2 linked regions of the Homo sapiens genome follow. The protein of the gene in region 2 interacts with the protein of the main gene of each other region in a biochemical or structural test. Each region holds a gene or a part of one and is shown on either strand. Other genes may lie near its edges.

The links. The genes of interacting proteins can lie anywhere in the genome.
Region 1: the proteins of PKN3 (region 2) and ARHGAP26 form a complex in vitro, tested with the Homo sapiens proteins (one study listed by BioGRID).

Annotation. Positions count from the first base shown.
Region 1 is NC_000005.10:142,773,257-142,777,004, reverse strand, and holds part of ARHGAP26 (rho GTPase-activating protein 26), read right to left. Parts: intron 1-3,748. UniProt on the Homo sapiens protein: GTPase-activating protein for RHOA and CDC42. Facilitates mitochondrial quality control by promoting Parkin-mediated recruitment of autophagosomes to damaged mitochondria.
Region 2 is NC_000009.12:128,705,503-128,709,250, reverse strand, and holds part of PKN3 (serine/threonine-protein kinase N3), read right to left. Parts: coding exon 3,708-3,748; intron 3,518-3,707; coding exon 3,372-3,517; intron 2,539-3,371; coding exon 2,427-2,538; intron 2,356-2,426; coding exon 2,228-2,355; intron 2,030-2,227; coding exon 1,846-2,029; intron 1-1,845.

The DNA of each region.
Region 1 (3,748 bases), on a different chromosome or scaffold from region 2:
ATAATGCAAATTAAAACCACAACGAGATACCACTTCACACCCACTAGAGTGGCTACAATCAAAAAGAAAGACAACAACAAGTATTGGCGAGGATGTGGAGAAATCAGAATCCTCATACATTGTTGGTGGGAATGTGAAACGGTGCTTCTGTTATGGAAAACAGTATGGTAGGTTTTTTTAAATAAACACAAGTTTAAATTAAACTTAAACATAAATTTACCATACAACCCAGCAAAATTCTACTCCTAGGTAAAAAATGAAATTAGAAGTGAAAACATATATACACATGAAGACACGTATGCAAACATTCATAGCAGCATTATTCATAAGAGCAAAAAACTGGAAATGACCCAAATCATCAGCTGGTGAATGGATAAACAACTTATGGTTTACAAAATGGAATATTTTCTAGCAATAAAAAGGAACAAACTACTGATACATGCTACAACACGATGAGCCTCAAACACAGCATGCTTAGTGAAAGAAGCCAGATGCATAAGACTACATATTATATGATTCCATTTAGCTTAATTTTTCAGGGAAGAGAAATCTATAGAGACAGAAAGTAGTAGATCAGTGGTTGTATGAGGCTTCAGGCAAAAATGCAGTGCCTGCAAATGAGCATGAGAAAGCTTTTCGGGGTGCTAAAAATGTTCTAAAACAGGACTAGGATGATGGTTGCATAACTCTGTAACTACAAACCACTGAATTATACACTTAAGAAAAGTGAGTGGCTAGGAGCCGTGGTTCATGCCTGTAATCGCAGCACTTTGGGAGGCCAAGACGGGAGGATCACCTGAGACCAGGAGTTCGAGACCAGCCTGGGCAACAACAAAGTGAGACCCCCATCTCCACAAATAATAAAAACAATAAAAAATAAAATCTTAAAAGGTGAATTTTATGGAATGTAAATTATAATTCAATTAACCTTTTATGAAAAATTCCCCCAAAAACATGCTGACCTGAAGCAAGTAACTGCTTTGAAAGGAATAAATATAAATATAGTGTTCTTGTGAGAGACAACCATGATCAATTGGTATGTCAATTCCAAGTGTTAGTGATCATACTGAAGGGAAACGAAATGGAAAGAAAAAAATACATTTTTATGACTTTAAAAGAGAAAGAATAGTCTTTCCTAATGACAGCTGTTGATAATTAAAACTCAACAATAAGATATTTAGCCATGAAGAGAAATGAAATCCTAACACATGCTATTAACATGGATGAACCTTGAAAATATTTTGCTAAGTGAAATAAGCCAGATATTTATGACAAATATTGTATAATTCCACTCATAAGAAGTACACAGAATAGGTAAATTCATACAGACAGCAGAATAGAGGTTACTAGGGTTGGGGGAGGGGAAAGTGGGGAGTTATTGTTTAATGGGAACAGAGTTCCAGTTTGAGATTATGAAAATGTTCTCGAAAGAGATAGTAATTATACAACATGGTGAACATGCTGAAAACCACTGCATTATATACTTAAAAATGACTAAAGTGGTAACCGTTGTGTTATGTATATTTTACAACAAACAAACCTCGACAAAGAGAAATAACCCAAATAAAAATGGGCAAAAGATCTGAAGACCCCTCACCAAAGAAGATATGCAGATGGCAAGAAAGCAATATGAAAAGATGCCAAACATCATATGTCATAAGGAAATAGCTAAATTTTTTAAAATGAGATACCACTACACACCTAGTAGGATGGTCAAAATCCAAAACACAGACAAAACCAAGTGCTGAGCAGAATGTAGAGCAACAGGAACTCTCATTCATTGCTGGTGAGAATGCAAAACAGTATAATCAGTTTGAAAGCCGGTTTGACAGTTCTTAAAAAAAACTACACGTACTATTTTATTTTATATATATATACATTACTATATAATCTAACAATTATACTCCTTGGTATTTACCCAAATGAGTTAAAAACTTATTTCCACATATAAACTGCACGCAAATGTTTATATCGGCTCTATTCATAATTGATAAAACTTGGAAACGACCAAAATGTCCTTCAATAGATGAAAGGATAAACTATGGCACATCTAGATAACAGAATATTATTCAGCAATAAAAAGAAATGAGCTACCCAGCCATAAGAGGACATGAAAGAACCTTCAGTACACATTGCTAAGTGAAAAAAAGCCAATCTGCAAAGGCCACATACTGTTTAATTCCAACTACATGACATTCTGGAAAAGGTAAAACTAGAGAGACAGTAAAAAGATTAGTGGTTGCCCGGGGTTAGTGGGGAGGGAGGGATGAATAGGTGGAGCACATAGGATTTTTAGGGTAGTGAAAGTATTCTGTATGTTACTATGATGGTGTTTATATGTCATTATACATTTGTCAAAATCCACAGAATGTACAACACAAAGAGTGAGCCCTAATGTAAATTATGGACTTTAGTTAATAATGTTATATTGATATTGGTTCATCAACTATAACAACTGTACTATGCTAATGCAGGATGTTAGAAATAGGGGCAACTGGAAGGGACAGGTATGAGGCGCTATGTGGGAACTTTCTACACTTCCCACTCAATTTTTCTGTGAATCTAAAACTGCTCTTAAAAAAAAAAAAAAGTCCATTAATGATTTAAGTGCAGGGAAGGAGGGTTTAAGCCAAAGTCAATGAATTGAGAACTACAGACTGGATGCAAATTTTTTCAGTCCAACTAAGAACACAGAATGGAGTAAAATGAAGGGATGTTTTTCAGCCAATGTTATATAAAAACTATAAAAATTTGTTTGAATTTAATTTGCTGTCATTTATGTTTGTATGAGTAATATTCAAAATGTCAATTACTACCATTTACAAATAATTAGGAAATGCCTTTGATTTTCTTTATTCACAAGGTACTGAAGCAAAGCAAAGGATCTGGGGAAAATATTTTGCTACCCAACTCCACATCCATTTGTTCCATTAGGATTTTCTGAGTAACATAATTACTCCTAAACAAAGCAGGTTGGCATCGAACATCCTTTGAGAGTTTATGCCATTCAAGAAGCGCTTATGTATTGCAAAATGCCCACGTTTAATTCTAACAAGTACAAAAGGGTGACAGGCTTTAAAGCATGTAACTCAGTGCTGACCTTTTTACTCTTGCTTTGAAAGGCAAAGAGGATGAACCACTTACTTACCTTACTGAATCACACCAAGAACAGGTTTTTGGCCTCTCTGTTCAATGCTATATTACTCAGTGAAAAGACAATCACTGATAATCATTCAGTGCTACCCCCAAAAGAAACTCTGCTGCTTTACAAAGCCAAGACATATTCAGCCACTCTCATCTGTCCCTCTAGCCTTCAAAGCCCGTGATGGAGAAAGAACTCCAAAACTTCAGAGGATAATACAAAATCTTAGCTGGTCTTTGCTACCCAGGGCTCGGAGTCTAAAAAACAACTGGCAATGTTTTCACTTAATCAAGCACCTGCTGCATGTTTCTCCTTTACGGGATCTAGATCTATAAAGAATTTGCATCTCCATTGCCAGCATCTCATTCATAAAGTGGAAGTAATAGTAACAATGATCTACCTGAACTTTGGCAATCCCTAGAGGACAGTTTTATTGCCTATGATTAACACTCAAAACCAAGTTAAATCCAAAGAGCTAGAAATACTAGTTATAAAATAACTGTAAAATAAAATAAAATATGGCTATAAAATAAAGCCACAAAAGTTTAGAGCTATAAGAGAACATAGATTATCTAAACCCAGTGTTTATATAATTATGTATTTATG
Region 2 (3,748 bases):
GCAGTGGTGCGATCTCGGCTCACTGTAGGCTCCGCCCCCCGGGGTTCCCGCCATTCTCCTGCCTCAGCCTCCCGAGTAGCTGGGACTACAGGCGCCCGCCACCACGCCCGGTTAATTTTTTGTATTTTTAGTGGAGACAGGGTTTCACCGTGTTAGCCAGGATGGTCTCGATCTCCTGACCTCGTGATCCGCCCGCCTCGGCCTCCCAAAGTGCTGGGATTACAGGCGTGAGCCACCGCGCCCGGCGATTTTTGTATTTTTTGTAGAGATGGAGCTTTGTCATGTTGCCCAGGCTGGTTTCAAACTCCTGGACTCAAGTGATCCACATGCCTCACCCTCCTAAACTGCTAGGATTATAAACATGAGCCACTGAGCCAGACCAGAAAACTCTTTCTTTTTTTTTTTTTCTTGAAAGAGTTTTGCTGTGTCACCCACGCTGGAGTGCAACAGTGCAATCTTGGCTTACTGCAACCTCTGCCTCCCAGGTTCAAGCAATTCTCTTGCCTCAGCCTCCCCAGTAGATGGGATTACAGGCATGCGCCACCACGCCCGGCTAATTTTTTTTGTTTCTAAAGATGAGGTTTCACTATGTTGCCCAGGCTCGTCTAGAAATCCTGGGCTCAAATGATTCGTCCACCTCAGCCTCCCAAAGTGCTGGAATTACAGGCTTGAGCCACTGTGCCCAGCCAAGAAAACTTTCTTTTTTTCTTTTTTTTTTGAGACTGGGTCTCAAAAAAACTCCTGAGCTCAAGCAATCTTCCCACCTCAGCCTCTCAAAGTGCCAGGATTATAGGTGTGAGCCACTGCACCCAGCAATTTTAGTTTAATTTTATTATTTTTTTTCCAAGGAAATTATTATTATTATTTTTTGAGATGGAGTCTTGCCCTGTTACCTAGGCTGAAGTGCAGCGGCGCAATCTCAGCTCACTGCAACCTCACCTCCTGGGTTCAAGCAATTCTCCTGCCTTAGCCTCCCGAGTGGCTGGGACTACAGGCATGTGCCACCACATCCAGCTACTTTTTTGTATTTTTAGTAGAGACAGGATTTCACCATGTTGGCCAGGCTGGTCTTGAACTCCTGACCTCAGGTGATCCGCCCACCTCAGTCTTCCAAAGTGCTGGGATTACAGGCATGAGCCACCATGCCTGGCCCAAGAAAACCTTTTTTTTTTTTTTTTTTGCGACGGCGTCTTGCCCCGTCGCCCAGGGTGGAGTGCAGTGGCGTGATCTCGGCTCACTGCAACCTCCGCCTCCGGGGTTCAATCAATTCTCTGCCTCAGCTTCCTGAGCAACCAGGATTACAGGCACCCGCCACCACGCCCGGCTAATTTTTGTATTTGTAGTAGAGACAGGGTTTCACCATCTTGGCCAGGCTGGTCTTGGAACTCCTGACCTCATGATCCACCCACCTCAGCCTCCCAAAGTGCTGGAATTACCAGCGTGAGCCACCACGCCCAGCCTAGAAAACTTTCTAACAGTCCAAGCTGCCCAGTGCTGGGTATCAAGCTTTCCAGGGCTGCGAGCTTCCTAACACCAGTGCTTTAAGCATTATTCTGGTTATTTATGTAAATACAAGCTACGCTGTCCGAGTGCTGACTGTGCTAGGCACTGTGCTTAGCACATCACGTGCAACACAGCAACCCTATGAGGTAGGTGCTATATCATCCACATTTTACAGATGGATAAACTGAGGTTTGAAGAAGGAATGTCAGTTTGCCAAGGTCACGCTGCTAGTGGGTGCTGGGGCAGGACTGGAACTCTTGAACTCTTCATCAGAGTTGTTTGTGCTTCCGGCCTCCCCCCAAAAAGAAGGAGAGCTTTGAAGGGGGAGGAACTTCTGACTACCTGTTAGGGCGGTGGGCTTCACAGGTGTCCCTGAAGGCTGGGGGTATCCAGGCACCGCAGCCCGCAACTCTCGGGTCACTCTGCTGCGCAAAGGGTGGGCAGGAGGCAGTTGCTCCAGCAGCTGCTCCAAGGCCAGGCGCAGGAGGTCCAGTTTCTGAGAGGACTCCTGTAGCTGGGCCTGGGCCTGCAGAGGGGACAACGTAGAGCCAGGTTCGTGGGGTATATGGCAGGGGGCAGCAGCCCAGGTCACCCGGAGCCACCTTCCGCATGAAGTCTCAACAGAGAAGTCCTGCTTTTACACGGCCACCCTCCCTTCACACCCCTGCTGAGGGTGGTATGGGAACAAGCCAGCCTTAGGAGAGGGCCAGGGCTGGGGCCTGACCTCAGCCAGTGCCTTGCGGTCCTGTGTTCTCCGGCTACTAAGCAGTTTCACCACGTTCTTGGCGCCCTCAGCCACAGCTGCCTCAACGTGCAGTCGATGCTGTAGCTCCTCCGCCAGCAGCTCAGGCCCTGTGGGAAGGACGGCGGCTCTCAGGCCCTGCTCTTCCCTGCTCCGCCCTCCCTGTGTCTCAAGGCCTCACCTGGCTCCGGGGACCCACTGGCCTCCAGGCTGCTGATCTTCATCCGCAGCAGGGCCACCTTCAGCTGGCTGTCCCGCAGCATCTGCTGGGCAGCTGCCAGGAGCTTCCTCTCCTATGGAGCCATAGCACAGGCCCATCAGACCAGGCCTGGGCCACAGCTTCCCCCATCAGACCAGGAACTGGAGCCGGGTCTCCCCCATCAAAACAGGGTTAAAGTGAAACCTCTAGGCCAAACACTAAAGTCAAGCCTCCCTTGTTGGACTAGTTGGTGGGTCAGGGGAGCCTTTTCCATCTGACCAACAAGGGCTGGGGTCAAATTTCCTCTTTCATATCACGGCTGGGGTCATGCCTCTCCCATCAGATCAGGGCTGGGGCTAACTCTCCCCCATCAGATCAGGGCTGGGGCTAACTCTCCCCCATCAGATCAGGGCTGTGGTCATGCCTCCCCCATCAGAGCAGGGTTGATGCTTCCCCCATCAGATCAGGGCAGGGGCTAAGCTAAGCCTCCCCCATTAGATGAGGGCAGGGGCTAAGCTAAGCCTCTCCCATCAGATCAGGGCTGGGGATAAGCCTCCCCCATCAGATCAGGGCAGGGGCTAAGCTAAGCCTCCCCCATTAGATCAAGGCTAAGGTCCTGCCTCCGTCATCATATCAGGGCCACAGCCAAGTCTTCTTGTCAGACAAGGACTGAGGCCCAGTTCTGGACATCATGCTGGGAGTTGGGACTGGGGCTGGGCTAGGATCCCATTAGACCAGGGCAAGGCCTTCTCTGTCACACTAGAGACTACAGCCATGCCTTCCTCACCCAGCTGGGGTTTGGGGCTGTATTTTCCCCATCAGGCTGCAGGCTGGAATGGTGTCTCCTTATGAGCCCAATGGCTGAGGTGCATTTCCCTGTCAGACCAGGGGCCAGGGTGCTCCTGCCATCAGACTGTGGGGCCTTACCTTGGGGGTGCCACTGGCGCACGTGTGGGTCATGTTCTCAGCCCCCTGCTTCACCTTCAGCTCCACATGCAGCTGCCTCCGGAGAGCCTCTAGGTGCCGAGCCCTGAGCTGCTCTGCCCACGGCCGGGGTCCTGAGGCCACAGGCTCTGTGCACGGGGGTATCGAGCACAGGAGTCCCTCACCCAGAGCCGAGACCCCCACTGTGGCCTTTCCTCCTTCCCCTACTGATCTATAGGCAGGAAATGAGGTGGTCTCGCCACAGTGGCCAGGGCCAAGGCCAGGGGCCAGATGGGCCTAGAGCCTTCTGTCCTGAGGGGGTCTCAGCTCCTCACTCACCAGCTGGGCCAGGCCCAGGGCCGGGCAGCAGGATTCGGGCG